Linked DNA regions of Homo sapiens: regions 2 and 3 are each linked to region 1. The links come from fine-mapping of genetic effects on gene expression. A gene starts in region 1. Each other region holds a variant in brackets. All regions are shown on one strand. Distances are from middle to middle.

Region 1 (5,511 bases):
TGCATGCCTGTATCAAAATATCTCATATACTCCATACATATATACACCTACTAAGTACCCACAAAAATTTAAAATAAAATTCCTTTTAAAAATAAAGAAAAAAACCACCTACCTAATGGACCACATTTTATTTTTTAGCTATTGAACTAGCAGTCACACCATAACAGTATTTGTTCATTCAACACTTTAAACTTTTTAATGTACTTTCAAATACATCATTCTCCCTTTTATCCTTACAACAACCTTGTGATCCTGAGAGGTTAATTACTTGAGGTCACTGAATGACTTTTGGCTAGAATAAGGATTAGATAATATTACAGAGTGACTTGTAATATATAACTCAAATTGTTAGGTATAGATAATCCATACAAATGGCTTTAAAATAAATATTTTGGGTTTCATGCTATGATGAAGGATCTGTTCCATTTGCTTCCAATTTAGTTGCGTAAAGTTGAGATAAAATCTTGAAGGAAGGGTCATAGCACCATTTAAATACCCACAGGTCTGTCATGTGGAAGAAGTATTAGGTTTATTCCTATGACTCCAGAGGGCAGAACTAGTACAAGTGAGTAGAAGACAGGCAGATTTCAACTAAGAATATGAAATGTCTTTCTAATAATGAGACACTTGCCCCCAAAAGAAGGTGTTGACTTGTGAAAGAACCAGTTCCTCATCTCTTATAGTGTTTAAAAAGAACGCCATAATAGAACTCCATAATCCTAGAGACTCCTTTAACTGGTCACACCAGCTAACCTCCAGGACCTTCGTAGATTTCAAGTTTATGAAATGTTGTTGAACTTTGAAAAGAGGCACAGATATTTTGAATACAACAGTTTAAAGTCATTCAAATTCTGGATGAAATTATTTCGTTATGCTCCTCAAAAACAGTGAGTTCTATTTGAAGTTTTACCCCCAGACTCTCCTTTGAATTAGTATTTTTGCCCATATACCCATATATTTTCAAGAAATTTCTTTCTTTCCTTCCTTCCTTCCTTCCTTCCTTTCTTCCTTCCTTCTTCCTTCCTTCCTTTCTTCCTTTTGAGATAGGGTCCTGCTCTGTCATCCAAGCTGGGGTGCAGTGGGGTGTTCACGGCTCATTGCAGCCTCGACCTCCCGGACTCAAGCAGTCCTCCCAACTCAACTCCCAAGTAGCTAGGACGACAGGCATGCACCACCACGCCCAGCTATTTTTGTATTTTTTGTAGAGATGGGGTTTCATCATGTTGCCCAGACTTGTCATGAACACATGGCCTCAAGCTAGCCCACCTCCCACTTCAGCCTCCCAAAGTGCTGGGATTACAGGCATGAGCCACTGCACCTGGCCAAGAACATTCAAAACTTTAAAACTGAAAATTGTCCTAATAAGGAGTCTACTAACTTAATCTTCCATCAGCATTGTTTTCTGATTTCACAGAAAACTTTACAACAAATGTATTGCATTCATTCTTGATGTTTTAAGAAATTAAAGGAATTAGACAAGGTAAAAACAAAAACAAATCTATCTCTTTAAAGATGGCAAGGACTAGGATTTTAATCTGTAATCTTAAATTTTTGAAAAAGATCTTTTCCTTCTTAATGACTTCTTTTTAAATGGTCCTTCAGGTTGAACACAATTACATTCTTTTATAGTATACAGTAATGAAGCTGAAATAAAACAGTGAGTTCTCTTCCACACGTAAATTGTGATTGTTCAATGTTCTGCAAGGTCTTCTGATGGCCCCATTCTCACCCTGCTCCTTACCTGCCTCTTTAACTCTTTAAATCTAATCCCCTAATTTTTATCAGAAAAGTATTTCCTTTTTACGATAGGCTGTGGTTTCTGCCTTTAAAAAAACAATCCTGGGGTTTCTCTCAGAATCTGGAAGAAGTCATTGCAATGGTAAAGTAGGTAAGAGGCTGGGGTGGAAAGAAATGCCTTCTGCATAAATCTAGTTAGTCTGAGTCGTTTTTTGACAACTTCCGGGACCAGACTTCAGGCAGTGCTGGAAATTGTTCTCTTTACCATATCTTTTTTTTTTTAACTGTACATATTTACATACATACACATATGGTGAGGGAGAGAACGTGATGACGTGAGACTCTCCATGGAGAGTAGGAGGTAATAAAGAAATAAAACAGGTGTCTGAGGAGAGGTTCTATTAGAGAGGGGAGAATAGAGAGTAATTATCGTTCAGACAGGCAAGAGTTCTCTGCAGGTAGCAGCCTGGGAAAGCGAACTCGCGCACCCTCTTGGGGGACGGGCTCTTTTGCTTTCTATTTCTTCTCCTGCAGCCAGGGTGCACACGTATTTGAAACAGACCGAATTTCCTCCTCGATGTGGCGTCAGGTTGACTTTTCGAGACTAGCGGGTATTTCTTTTTAATGACTCCAATGCCTTTTTATTATTGCTGTTATTGAGGTTGAGGGAGAAGAGATCGGTCTAAATTCTGGCTGGGTAAGTGGGGGGATTCTCGGCGATGAGAAACGGGGGACTTAGAAGCCGGAGGAAAATCAGCAGCCCCACATCTCCACTTCTCCAGTCCGCCCTACTCTCCACCCGTGACCTCCAGTGGAGACCCCAGGCGGCAGCATCAGTATTTGATCGGCCCTTCGTCAGCACGCTGCCAGCCCTGGCCGGCTGGGTTCGCCAGGCATCACCCGCTCGGCTCTGAAGCGGACGCCTGGCCCTGCACCGGGCTTTGGAAGGACCCTCTCTGCGCTCGCCCCCTCCCCAGGGTGGCTCCGCTTTCGAGCCCGGGCGCGGTGCCCACCATGCGCGGCTGCCTGCGGCTCGCGCTGCTCTGCGCGCTGCCCTGGCTCCTGCTGGCGGCGTCGCCCGGGCACCCGGCGAAATCCCCCAGGCAGCCCCCGGCACCGCGCCGCGACCCCTTCGACGCTGCCAGGGGCGCCGATTTCGATCATGTCTACAGCGGGGTGGTGAACCTCAGCACCGAGAACATCTACTCTTTCAACTACACCAGCCAGCCCGACCAGGTAAGACACTCGCTCCCCTCGCTCGACTCCTAGAACTTGCCAGATCTCAGAGCCCCGTCGCTGCTTTGGAGTCCCCTGGGAATTGACCTTGGGAGACTTCGGGGACCAGGGGACTTTCTTTCCCTTTCTCCTCCGAAGCAATCGCTGCCCTGCCCTAGCTGCCTCAACACGCCTCGGGGACAACTCTGCTTCGCCTCGCGCCTCTCCTGGCCTGGTCAAGGGCATTGCTGGGCTTTGCAGAGGCACCAGTTCCCCGCACCGTCTGCGGGTCCTGGGTCCCTGCTGGGTCTTTCTCCAGGAAAGTCCTGATTTCTAGGGTTGCGGGGTGTGGTGTGGAGTGCGAAGAAGAACCGCACCTCGGTTCCTAATCCCCTGCAGGGAAGAAACCTAATTTCAAGTGGCTGATTCAGCCAGACCCTTCTATTTCATAGCGCATGGGGAGGGAGAACTGCTCAGAATCTAAAATGGAAATTGTGTGAAAATGGACGGAAGCTGCAGAACCTCTGTGCATTCAACAGTCACTTCCTGCGTTTTTGTGCCATTGTCACACGTTGTGCTTCAGAGACGCCAGAAGACCTGGGCAAAGACGTGAGAACTGCAGCCATCAGCTGATCAATCCAGGTTTTGATTTTAAATAAGGATGGATAATTGTGTGAAAGTTCTAGACCTATTTTTGACAAAAGTTGAGGGAAGATAAGGAGGGAAAAATGTTCCAGTGACTATCCCTTTGACATATATACTCCGATTATATAACGTAAGAAGATGCATATAGTTCATTTCTTTCCTCTAGTGTGGTACCTCTGGAGCACTGGGCGGGGAGAGAGAGGGAGACAGAGAGAGAAAGAGAGAAAGAGAGACAGAGACAGAGACAGAGACTCCCCAGTGTACCAACCTCTGGATCTTCTTCCCATATAAATGTGTTTATGTATCCCTTACTATACCAGCATCCCCTACCCTCTAGGGAAATTCCAGAACTAGATGATTGGGATACCATGATATGCCTCCGTCTGATTCTCACTCCAGATCGGAACTAGAAAACCTCATCACTTCCCAAAGTGAGGGTGGTTTGTATTGAGCAGGGGGGACCAATGTGCCTAACACTGCTCCTAGACATCTTCCAGCTGTGTGTAGCCAGAAAGTGCCCTGAGTGCCCCATCTCCAGTGTGGCACCAAATCCTATGGCACTGTTACCATGGCAGCACAGCCCTCACCCTGCTCTGTCCTCCAGTAACCTTCAGGTTATATGTTCTGTAGTGAGCAGAGTGGCTGTATGCAGAGCCATTTCATGGTAGACAAGGGAGAGGCTGCAGTTTTTGTTTCCCAAACGCCATATACCCAGCCTCTTTCTATCTAGCGTGGGAGAACTCATCGACTGGTTGACATGTTGCACGTGAGGTGTGTTCCTAGTCCTGTGATTGGCTGGGAGCAGAAAAAAGTCTGAAAACTCCATGATCTCTGGAGTAAGTCTCAGCTTCCCCCTAAATCATTGGTAAGAAAACTCAAATTACATGTGCTAAGTAAATCCTGACATCAGGCTTTGGTATTTCTTGCAGTTCTGCATAGAGATAGAGCATCTACTTATGAATTGTTGCCTTTACATTTTCCCCTTGTACTGTGTGAGTTTTGCACTTGAGATCACCTGGTTGACTTCCCTAGTAAACCTTGAGATATTGAGGGCAGGGGCAAAGTCATGTTCATCTCTGCCCTCCAGTACCTAGCACAGTGAATGGCACATAAGAGGTTTATAAGCCAGGCATGATGGCTCACACCTGTAATCCCAGCACTCTGGAGGACAAAGTGGGAGGATTGCTTGAGACCAGGAGTTCAAGACCAGCCTGGAAAACATAATGAGACCCTCTCTCTACAAAAAATTAAAAAATTAGCTGGGTGTGATGGCACATGCGCCTGTAGTCCCAGCTACTTAGGAGGCGGAGGCAGGAGGATCACTTGAGCCCAGGAATTTGAGGCTGCAGTGAGCTGAGCTCTTGCCACTGTACTCCCACTGGGGACAGAGTGATACCCTGTTTTTTCAAAATGTTTTTTTTTTTAAAGAAAAGAGAGGCTTATAAAAAACATTTAGTGTTTTCCAAAAATGAACAAATAAGTGAATAAAGGGTTATTAGCTAAGGCTAAATAAAATGAAATGTATACTGTTTTCAATTCAATAGTTTGGAAAATGTGAGATCATTTCAGATAAAAACATAAAAACAAATTTCTTTCATAAAACAAATTTGGTTTTTATAAAAACACATTTTAAAAATTGTTCTATTATGCCCTATTTTGTCTGTGTGTGTTAACATGTCCTTTATTTTATGAAACAGTTTTGAAAATATTTTTGAATGACACAGTAAAAGGTTGATGACCCAAGCAGTCCCTAGAATTTTTGTTAAAATATTACTAGTCTGAGAAATACAAAGTTGGGAACCATGGGAACAGGAGATAACAAGAATTTCAATTATTTTAGTGCCAGTATTCTCAATATAAGCCAAATGTCCTCAAATCTTACAGCCTTCTGGGACCAATCTTTAATATGCAAAT
Region 2 (5,511 bases), 39 kb after region 1:
CAATGAACAAACTATTGCTATACCCAACAACATGGATACATCTCACAATGTTGAGAAAAAGAAGCCAGGCCAGGTGCGGTGGCTCACGCCTGTGATCCCAGCACTTTGGGAGGCCACAGCAGGTGGATCACCTGAGGTCAGGAGAGCGAGACCAGCCTGACCAACATGGTGAAACCCCTCTGTGCTAGAAATACAAAAAAAAAAAATTAGCTGGGCATGGTGGCAGGCGCCTGTTGTCCCAGCTAATCCGGAGGCTGAGGCAGGAGAATGCTTGAGCCTGGGAGGTGGAGGTTGCAGTGAGCCGAGATCATGCCAATGCACTCCAGCCTGGGTGAAGGAGTGAGACTCCCTCTCAAAAAAAAAAAAAAAAAAAAAGGAAGCCAGACAAAAGAAATGTATGCTATTTTATTCCATTTATATAAAATTTAAAGGCAGGCAAAACTATTCTGTGATGCTGGAAGTCAGAATAGTGGTACCTTTGGGGAGGAGAGAAGTACATGGCTATGTTTGACGATAATTTATTCAAATATATGCTTATAACTGCACACTTTTCTATAATACATGTTTGTTATATTTCAATTAAAAAGTTAATTTTTTAAAAAATCGGAATATTTCAAAATCGTATATGTCACTGTTTTGCAGCTTATTTTTCTGATCAGAAAGTTTGGTTCTACAGTAAAGTTCTCCTTAAATTTAAGGCAGTTTATAAAAACATCTGTAGCCAGTAGAGTTGCTAATAGGACTCAAATATTTATCTTGGTCCTCTCTACCCTCCTTGACATAGTGTTATACCCATACGGAAACGTGGACAGATAAATGAATGAGTGGTCAGAAGGATGGAGAAGGAGTCACAGCATTTTTTCTCAAGTCCCTCCATTAATCCTGGTGTTGAAAAAGGTGACATGATAATTTTAAGAGCAAAGGACACTCTATCCTCCACAAGAACAAGGAGAAAAAGATTCTCTGGTGAATAAGATCCACCCAGAGCAATTAAATCAGAGGCTGTAGGGGAGAGGTTTGGGCACTGGTAAAGTGTTTAAAGTTCCCCAGGTGTTTCTAACATGCAGCCAGTGTTGCGAACCACTACCCTAAAATGATTTCTAAATATGGTGCTTCAGTTTAATTTAATATATATTTTTTGAGACCGAGTCTTGCTGTATCACCAGGCTGGAGTGCAATGGCATGATCTTGGTTCACTGCAACCTCCACCTCCTGGGTTCAAGCGATTCTTGTGCCTCAGCCTCCCAAGTAGCTGGGATTACAGGTGTGTGCCACCATGCCCGGCTAATTTTTGTATTTTTAGTAGAGACGGATTTGACCATGTTGCCCAGACTGGTCTCGAACCCCTGGGCTCAAGCGATCCACCCGCCTCGGCCTCCCAAAGTGCTGGTATTACAGGCATGAGCAACTGTGCCTGGCCTAATTTAATAATTTAAAAATCTACTTGTGATATTTATCCATATGGGAATACACATTTGATGGGAGTTACACATTTGATGGGAGTGATAACGTGTTACAGTACTTGCACAGAGTGCAGTTTGAACTGCAGAGAAGCCTTGCCTTTATCAACTGATCTCTGTCTTTAATCAATCAATCAAGTGTCACCTGGTAGCAGTGGCAGTGTCACTTGGTGGTAGCATATTTGAATTGTAGGAATGGTCTTCTGTAAGGTTATTAGAACCTTTTGAGAACTGAATTCTGTGAAAATAAAGTCATAAGGTCACAACTGTAGCGAGTGTTAATGAATTATTTGCACGCTGGTGAAACTGCAAATCTATTCCCTCATGTTGCTTTCTGTTTTTACCTCATAATATGACTTAGCCTCAGCAACCAGACTTTAAGAGCATTTCAAAATCACTATTTACACACCAGCCTTGCTGGTAACCTGGAACCAGAGGATGATGGTAATGAGGAAGAGCTGAGGATTGTGATGAGAACTGGGCTCAGGCATTGAGAGAAACACTGAAGAAGTAATTCGAAATCTCTAAGATTGAAGTTTCTATTGTATGTTTTTGAGTGGCAGCCTATAATGTATATGGAACACATTTTGGGAACTTTTTTCCCCTAGAATCATACATTTTAAGAACTGAAGGATCTTTGGGAATCTAATCCACCTGCCTCATTTTTACAGATGAGCAAACTGATGCCCAGAGAAGTTAAGTGACTTGTTCAAATTCACACAGCTAGGAAAGGGCAAAATCAAGACTAAATTGTACTTCTGACTCCCAGTTCTGCGCTCTTCTCGCCATAATGAACTATTTCTACTTTCTAGTTAAAACTGTCCTCCCAATTGTTTGTGTTTCTCTAAATATGTCTCTCAATTCCATGAAACATTTATTTAAATCCAACTTTACTAGCAGAGCACAGTGGCTCCCGCCTGTAATTCCAGCTACTCAGGAGGCTGAGGCAGGAGGATGACTTAAGGCCAGGAGTTCAAGACTGGCCTAGGCAACATAGTCTCTAAAAAAATAAAAACCAAAAAAATTAGCCAGACATGATGGTGTGTGCCTGTAGATCCAGTTACTCAGGAGGTTGAGGCAAGAGGACTGATTGAGCCCAGGAGTTTGTGCTGCTGTGAGCCATGATTGTGCCACTGCACTCTAGGCTGAGCAACAAAATGAGACCCCATCTCTGCAAAATTCCTTTAAAATTGAAACAACTCTACTTTAAAGCATTGCTTGGTGCCATCTACCTATCCTCTGCACACACACACACACACACACACA[T/C]AAACTGTGCCACTACTCTTTTTCTACACTCCAGTGCCCAGGTGTTTAGTATTGCTAGAGTGTGAAATTGCAGGCAGGCAACAGCAGATGGCTACAGAAACAGGCAAGCCTGTGATCATGGCATAGGAGGATCTTAAGAAGGGGCATTAGGAAATTTAAACGTCTGTAATCCCAGCACTTTGGGAGACCAAGGCGGGCAGATCACCTGAGGTCAGGAGTTCAAGACAAACCTGGCCAATATGGTGAAACTCCGTCTCTACTAAAAAATTCAAAAACTAGCTGGGCATGGTGGTGCACACCTGTAATCCCAGCTACCTGGGGGGCTGAGGCAGGAGAATCACTTGAACCCAGGAGGCAGAGGTTTCAGTGAGCTGAGATTGCACCACTGTACTCCAGCCTGGGCCATAGAGCAAGACTCCGTCTCACACACACACAAAAAAAATTAAACAGTTGTCTATATTGTGATAGTTGTGTGGAGAATGGATTTGAAGAGGACAAAACAGGATGCAGAGAAGTTAGAAGGCTGATGCAGTAGTCAAGATAAATAATGAGGAGGTGAATTGAAATATTAGGAGAGGTGAAATTGCTGAAATTTTATTAGATATGAGGGGAAAAAGAAAAGAGAGAGTCAATAATGCCAGTGTAGCTTGTAGATGGTGGGGCCACTAAGAGAAAATGAGAATTTTGATAAGAAAAAGAACAGATGATAACTTCACTTTGGGACAGGTTGGGTTTGAAATACAGATATCTGGCAAAGTGATGGATGTATACTAACATGACACTTAGGGGAGAGCTCTGAGTTACAGTTAGGCAGACTAGTGCAGTCTTCAGGAACACATCAAGAAGCCTGGTCCACATGATGCCTGGGCAAGACAGGGTTACAGGAGATAGGGCTGGAGAAACAGGCAGTGCCCAACTTTGATCTTTAAGATGTTGGATGCTAGACTATGGAGTAGAACTTCGTCTTTCAGATTATGGGAGCCATTAAAGGATTGTGAGCAACAGGATAGCATTCAGAGATCTGATTTCTAGAGATGACATGAGTGGCAGTGTGGAAGAGGAATTACAGAGATGAAAGATGAGGGACAAACAGGCAAATGAAAAGTTATCTGAATGGAGAAGAAAGAAAAATGATTAGAACTTGAATGTGTATGGCAGCAACAAGGTTGTAAGGGAGAAAACGAGTCAAATAGTACACATGGAGATAATTCATAATTCAGCAAATATATGTGGCAGAATAAAATTTATAGTCCTCCATGAATACTTGCAGCCTTCAGCCCTCCTCTAGCCTTCTAAGTAGGGATCTTGAGTCTGTTTTAAGAGGAGAGAGTGTGTGAGTGAGATAGCTCAGCTACTATGCTGTGAAAAGTAATAGATTTTTTGAAGAAATGGGTGGATAAGAGAATTTTAGACCATTTTGCTATGTGTCATACTATATAATTACCTTTGGTATTTTGGAGGAGACTACAATAAAGATTTACATTCCTTTTTTTTTTTTTCTCTCTTAATGATGCTGTACTGAGCAAACATGGTGCTCCAGGTGGTGGCAGGTTACTTTTACACTAATAGAATGAGTAGGACCTGGTGATTAATCAAATGTGGAAAGCGATAGAAAGGGGGTAGTCCAACATGACTCCTACAGTGATGTCAGAAGTCTGGTGAGGTTTACTGACAAAGGGACATAGTAGGTCAGGATCAGGGAAGTGACAGCACATTCCCTTTTATCATGTGGAGTTTGAGGTGTTCAAGGGATGGTCAAGTGCAGAAGCCCAGCAGGGGATCACTATTCTGTGACTGGGGCTCAGGAGATGGCCCTGGGCTGGACACAGGGACTTGAGATTCACTGGCATTATTGTGGTATTTACAGCAGCTGGATACACATTGTAAAACGAGTTGATCAAGAACAAGGCTGTGGGTAACATTCTCATTTAAGGGATGATCTGAGAAACTGAAGCTATCATAAGGGGCTGAGTAGACACAGCCAGAGGTGTGGGAGAAATCCCTGGGGGTTAAGTCACTGGATTTAGCGATTAGATAGTGCTATGGTCTCAATGTTTACTTTCCCCAAAATTCATATTGAAATCTCCACAGTGATGGTACTTGGAGGTGGGGCCTTTGGGAGATGATTAGGTCGTGAGAGTGGAGCCCTTGTGAATGGGATTAATACCTTTATGAAAGAGTCCCCAGAAAGGCCCTCTGTCCTTTACACCACATGAGGATGCAGTGAGAAGGCACCATCTATGAGGAAGCAGGCTCTCATCAGACACCTTGATCTTGAACCTGCTAGCCTGTAAAACTGTAAGAAATAATAGATTTCCATTCTTTATAAGTCACCGAGTTGACAGTATTTTTGTTATAGCTGCCTGAATAGGCTAAGACAGGAGGTGACTCTTACCCTTAGCAAAGGAAATTTCAAGGGCGTGGTGGAGAAAGAATCCTGATAGCAGTGGGTGGAGGAAAGAATGAAAGAGAGATAAACATGGAATACTCCTAGAAGCAGCTGGTTTGTGAAGAGAGGAAGGACATAGGATGACATTAAAGGATGGCGATCCAGGGAAAAGGGAGGCATTTGGGTGGGGTGTTTGTTATTTGTTTTGAAAATGGTTGAGACTAGAATATATTTATAAACAAAGAGGTAGAAAGGCAGATTAAATTCATAGGAGAGTTGGATATTTGTAGATGCAAAGTGCCAGAGAATGATAGAAAGAATGAGAATTAAGTACATGAGTGCGGAGTTTATACTTAGACCAGAGGAATGAAGGGCAGACAGTTCCCAATGACAAGA
Region 3 (5,511 bases), 69 kb after region 1:
TGAAAAGAGAAAAATGTGAAAGATACTGAGGGGAATGTAAAAGACCTACAACATCATCTAGGAATAAGAGCAACCCAGGGGTTCCATGAGACTCCCTGCAATAAACTAAACAGAAAGAAGATGCAGGATGACCCACGCCAGTGGGTAATCATTGGCAGGCAGCAGCTGCCAATCTAAAAAGCAAAAGCTGTGCTTTTTTAAAATGTGAGTTTATTACAGTGGAGATGCAAATGAGCCTCAACCTCTTTGTCTCTTTAGAAAGGTATTCTTGAGCACTATATGAAAGTAACATATTTACTACCAATTGTTCTTGTTTGAAGGAAAATTCCTGTCTTTTCAGTTAAAAAGATAAGTTTTGTCTAATACAACAGAAGGTTATTCAGCCTTTAAGCAGGATATGCTGCCATTTGCAACAATATGCCTTCCATGGATAAACATGGAGGATGTTATGCTAAGTGGAATACACCAGACACAGAAAGCAAAGTACTGCATGGTCTCTCTTATATGTGAAATCTTTTAAAAAGTAAAATACATAGAAATAAGGAGTAGAACAGTGAATATCAGGGACAGGGAGTGGGAGGAAATTAGGAGCTGTAAGTCAAAAGGTACAAATCTGCAGGCAGGTAGGATGAATAAGTCTAGTATACAGTAGGAAGAATATATATAGTTAATAATATTGCATTCTATGTTGAAAATTTGTGAAGAGAGTAGATTTTAGGTGCTCTTATAACAACAAAAAAGAGGGAACTATGGAAAGTGATGGATATGTTAATTTGCTTAGCTATAGCAATCATTTCACTATGTGCACGTAATATCAAAACATCATGTTGTACATCTTAATATATACAATTAAAAATCATTTTTTAGGCCAAGCATGGTGGCTCACGCCTGTAATCCCAGCACTTTGAGAGGCCAAGGCAAGCTGATCACTTGAGGTGGGGAGTTCAAGACCAGCCTGGCCAACATGGTGAAACCCTGTCTCTACTAAAAATACAAAAATTAGCCAGTTGTGGTGATGTGCACCTGTAGTCCCAGCTACTCAGGAGGCCGAGGCAGGAGAATCGCTTGAACCCGGGAGGTGGAGGTTGCAGTGAGCCGAGATCGTACTACTGCACTCCAGCCTGGGTGACAAAGTGAGACCCTGTCCCAAGAAATAATAATAATTTTTCATAAAAAAAAAATAAGTTCTCACCGAGACCAATACAATGAAACACTATCCATCCACTCTCAGAGTGACCAGGCAAATTACATGATCTCTCAGCATCTCCCTTTTATCATCTTTAAAATGGTGATAATAATATTATCAACCTCCTAGGGTTGTTGAAAATTTAAAAGACTAAATTCCTGGAAAGAATTTAAAAGACTGTCCTACACAGTAAGTCTGCAATAAACATCAGTCAGTAGTAATAGAGGTAGTACTGGTAGCAGCAGCAGTAGCAGCTGCAGCAGCAAAGCTCTATGCTGTAACTATGGCCAATTCTGTTCTAAGTCAAAAAGAGTCAGGCAAATTGCACACAACATCTTCACATGGCACTGTTACTGTGCTCGAAAGATTTGATCTCTCATACTTAACAGTCTGAAGGTAACCTGTTTCTTTGATTTGAAGTTGGTTGAAAAGCATAGATGGTATTGATGACATGTTACATACTTATGGGTCAGCCCAAGAAAGGCCAGGGAACACCTAATTTCCCTAAATAAGAAGAAATTTATGAGGGGATCTCCAAGCCTAGTAACAGTGCCAGGGAGCATGCATTCTGAGGGCCAAAGTCTGCATTTTGAAGGCCAAGATCTGTGTGCTAAGGGCCCTGGGAACAGCTTAGGCTGCCAAAAATGCTGCGTTAGCCAGAAGCCTTGCTGTCCAGCTGAGCCAGCTCTTGGCTAAACCACCAAAGAAGAAAAGAAATTGGATCTCCAAGGCCATTGCATTAGTCCTTATAATTAAAGTTTAAGTCCAAAACCTGGCTAAAGGTTTTGAGTTTACACTTTAATTATTTTTCTTTATGGGGGAAATTAATGGACACATAAAAAATTTAAAACATGCTAAAAACCTACAAAGCTGGCTTACAAAACTGAGTATTTTTATTGTCCACCAATGGAAATGATGGCTGTGTTTCAGTAGAACTTATACATAAATACTGAAATTTGAATTTCGTATCATTTTTACCTGTCATGAAACATTATTCTTCTTTGGATTTTTTCCCCAGTCATTTAAAGGTTTGAAAACTAATCTTAGTTGAAGAGCCATACAGAAACAGGTGGCAGGCTAGATTTGGCAGATGGGTCATAGTTTTGGTGACTCCTGTATTAGTGTAAAAAGAAAATCAAACCTAAAATAATGTGCCCTGATGATTCAAGCTACTTAGAATAGTGTTGTTTTGTTTTAGCAACTGGACATAAAGTGTTTGCCTCTTCACTTTTTTTAACAGGCTCTGGAAATATGGTGGCATCTCATCCCATTGCTGCCAGCACACCCGAAGGGAGCAATTATGGGACAATAGGTATGTCCTACCAGGTCTGTTCATGAAAGTGTTTCCTAATTCTGCAGAGAATATGATAGAAAGGCATTCCAGCCACTAATAACTGGGAATGTGGGCAAAGCAGCTATCCTATGAGATTGTCTTTTATTTGTAAGATGAGTTGCTTGGAGATTTGGAAGCTTCCTCCCAGCTCTAACTTTCTCCAGTTCTGTTGTTCTGTTTCTTGGATCTGCTAGCCCCACTTGGGCAGAATTCCTTCAATGTTTGCCATCTAATACTAAGGCCCCCTAGGGACTTTTTCATATCCAGCC[C/T]GGGTTTAGGGCATGAAAGATGTGTCCCAGGGAGCCTGACATCAATTGACCAGTTGTTTCATTCTCAGGTTTCAGTGGAGTAAGGGGCGATCAGAAGACTGAGGCAGTGCTGCAGGTGAACATGGCTGTAGCCTACCAATCCTTCATTTTGGCTGACTTCATAATTGAACCTGCTCACTGCCACCCAGTCGTTCACATGGCAAACCCCAGTGTTCCTTAAGTGGGCTGAAAAGAATGGAATCCTAGACCTGTCTTGTTAGAGTAGAAGCTCATTGAGCTGCCTGCCCTTCCATATTGCTTGTGGACCTATGAATGGTGCTCTTTAAAATGTCAGTGTAGAGGGACTGGGAATCCTGTATTCCTGCCCTATCATTCTGTAACTTTGAGAAGCATGTGGGCTCAGTGCAGACTACTTATTTTTAGTTCTGTTAGAACAGGATTTTTAAGAAACCATCTGAACAGAAGAAATAAAGCGGAAGGTAAGCTCAGCTCATGTGCCCATCAAGCTGCATAAATCTCCATCTGCTCTGGGAAACATTCATGGGAACAGAAGGATTCTTCTTCCTGAGAATGTTGTTTTCATTATATAATCATAGATACAGCATGTGGGTGATTTCTGTGTACAAATACTTTACCCATGAGAAATGTATAGCTGTTAGATATGTGTGGGCTCACACATATATGCAATAGATGCTATACATAGCGATGTGCATGTGTATTTGTATATATTTATGTTCATATTTTAACATATGAAACATGAAATAGAAGTATAATATTATTTTTGTATCCAAATAGTTAACAGAGCAGATGCCCTTAGATTCTAATATGTGTTCAGTCCTGAAGATAGCCAAGTTAAATATAAAAACAGGAGAAGAGGAAAAATAAAAGTCCATTGAGAAGGAATAGAGAGAAAGAACAGGTCTTGTGAATGAGAAGTTCATTTGGATCAACACAGCATTTCCTAGAATGAGTCTGCACTGTGCTTTTTGCAGAGACGAATGGGCTCCGTAGGCTCTCCACGGCTTTTGATGGCAGATGAGTTGTCTCTGTTTCAGATGAGTCAAGCTCCAGTCCTGGAAGGCAGATGTCCTCCTCCGATGGTGGGCCACCGGGCCAGTCAGACACAGACAGCTCCGTGGAGGAGAGCGACTTCGACACCATGCCAGACATTGAGAGTGATAAAAACATCATCCGGACCAAGGTACCCACTCTGCCTCGCCGTACTCTTTGAGAGGGCAGAAAGTTTGGCAGTAGAATAAACTTCAGCAATACCTCAGTTTCCTTTATTTTGTTTCCTTCAGGGAAACCCAAATTTCCCAGAAGACTTAAATCAAATGTACCTACAGACTAAAAGCAATACTCTGTTAATTCGCACTTTTTTTTCTCGCGGAAGAAAGTGAGCACATTAAAGAGCACAGGGCATTAAAACACTCTTAAGGTCTGAAGTGAATGACTGTAGGCAATAAAGAAGGAAGGGATCCAACCAGATTAAAGAAAAGATTCATTTGAGGGGTGTACTGGGGAAAGCTCCCCGGTTCTGTGCATATCATCTTTCAAAAGGAAAGCTAATTTGTTTCTGGCTTGTGATTATTATTTTCTGTCATATCCAGCAAAAGATATGAAGGGGAAACGTACAGTTTCAGCCCTATGTAGTTCAAGAACCACACAGTGGACAGCTCTGAAAGCTGGGAAATCAATTCTTGACATGTAAGAAGCACTCAAGACTCCCAATAAGTTGCCCACATCAGCCAATCCTTAATATTCCAAGGAAAATACTAGGGTTTTTATTAAGGTATCATGGGAAAAACAACATTAAAAGAAAAGTCTTAAATAATTTTAATCAAGTAAATTTGATTTACTTAATCAAATTTAGTAAATTTGAATAATTGTATCGCTTGAATAATTTTAACAATTTTAATTTAAATTGAGACATTTGTTATGTTTGCCTTTGTATCTCATGCATAAAGAGCTGAGTACAGTTTTGCATTCTCTTTTTATTTGGCATTCCAGATGTTCCTTTACCTGTCAGATTTGTCCAGGAAGGACCGGAGAATTGTCAGCAAAAAATATAAAATTTATTTTTGGTAAGTAGATGACCAGTAGGACCATGGTTCCCTTAAATAAACATAGTTTTCTTAGTCAGAGCCACAACCACTTAGGCACAAGGTTTTAGTGTTTAATGAGGCACAGGCATAGGGAATGATGTTACCAGCCAACTATCAGTAGACCTGCAATGGCCACACACATGGACACAGCCTCCCTCCCAGCCAAGAGGCTGAGCTGCCTTGCAAGAAATCTTCTCTCCCCTCAGAAACCCCCAAGCTGAGTATTCTACTCTTGTGACAGCTCCTCCCCTTATTTTCTCCTGGAGGATGCCCTTTTACTTGCATGCAGATCTTAGAAGGAAATAAGGGACAATGGGGCCACATGAAATTTCATAGTGGGACCATCAGTTTGGAAACCACACCCTTTCACGTGATCCGTCACTCATTACTTACACTCTGATGTTTAATCTAACAGCAGCCTAAAGAGATAGGCCCTCATAAATGATTTGGTTAAACCAGAAGCAGGTACTACTTACACTGTTTTACAAATGGTTGTAAGAAAAGAAAGAAAAAAGAAACCCTAATATTTGTTGGGTACCAATCATTAACCTTTTAAAAAAATACATTTCAGTTAGTATTTTCAGTTTTTGCCTCTGCACCCTAACTAAAAGTATCCAA

The links. PIP is the estimated chance that this variant, and not a neighbour inherited with it, causes the effect. A credible set is the group of variants that fine-mapping cannot tell apart.
Region 2: its variant is the best candidate, but not a certain one, in a credible set for the expression of SIDT1 in whole blood (TOPMed, PIP 0.80).
Region 3: its variant is the best candidate, but not a certain one, in a credible set for the expression of SIDT1 in whole blood (TOPMed, PIP 0.58).

What each region holds. Positions count from the first base shown.
Region 1 is chr3:113,530,271-113,535,781 of GRCh38, forward strand. It overlaps SIDT1 (SID1 transmembrane family member 1), which reads left to right and starts at 2,285. Exons shown (of 25, transcript NM_017699.3): 1 at 2,285-2,973. The coding sequence starts at 2,752. RefSeq lists enhancers at 1,677-1,896, 1,917-2,106, 2,247-2,576, 3,047-3,176 and a silencer at 2,847-2,896.
Region 2 is chr3:113,568,785-113,574,295 of GRCh38, forward strand. All of the region lies in intron 3 of SIDT1 (SID1 transmembrane family member 1), which reads left to right. Among named protein-coding and RNA genes, the nearest start is that of SIDT1-AS1, 20 kb to the right of the region's middle. The variant T/C (reference allele first, on the strand shown) is at 2,727.
Region 3 is chr3:113,599,162-113,604,672 of GRCh38, forward strand. SIDT1 (SID1 transmembrane family member 1) reads left to right here. Exons shown (of 25, transcript NM_017699.3): 11 at 2,427-2,498; 12 at 3,844-3,989; 13 at 4,799-4,872. Among named protein-coding and RNA genes, the nearest start is that of MIR4446, 7.0 kb to the left of the region's middle. The variant C/T (reference allele first, on the strand shown) is at 2,789.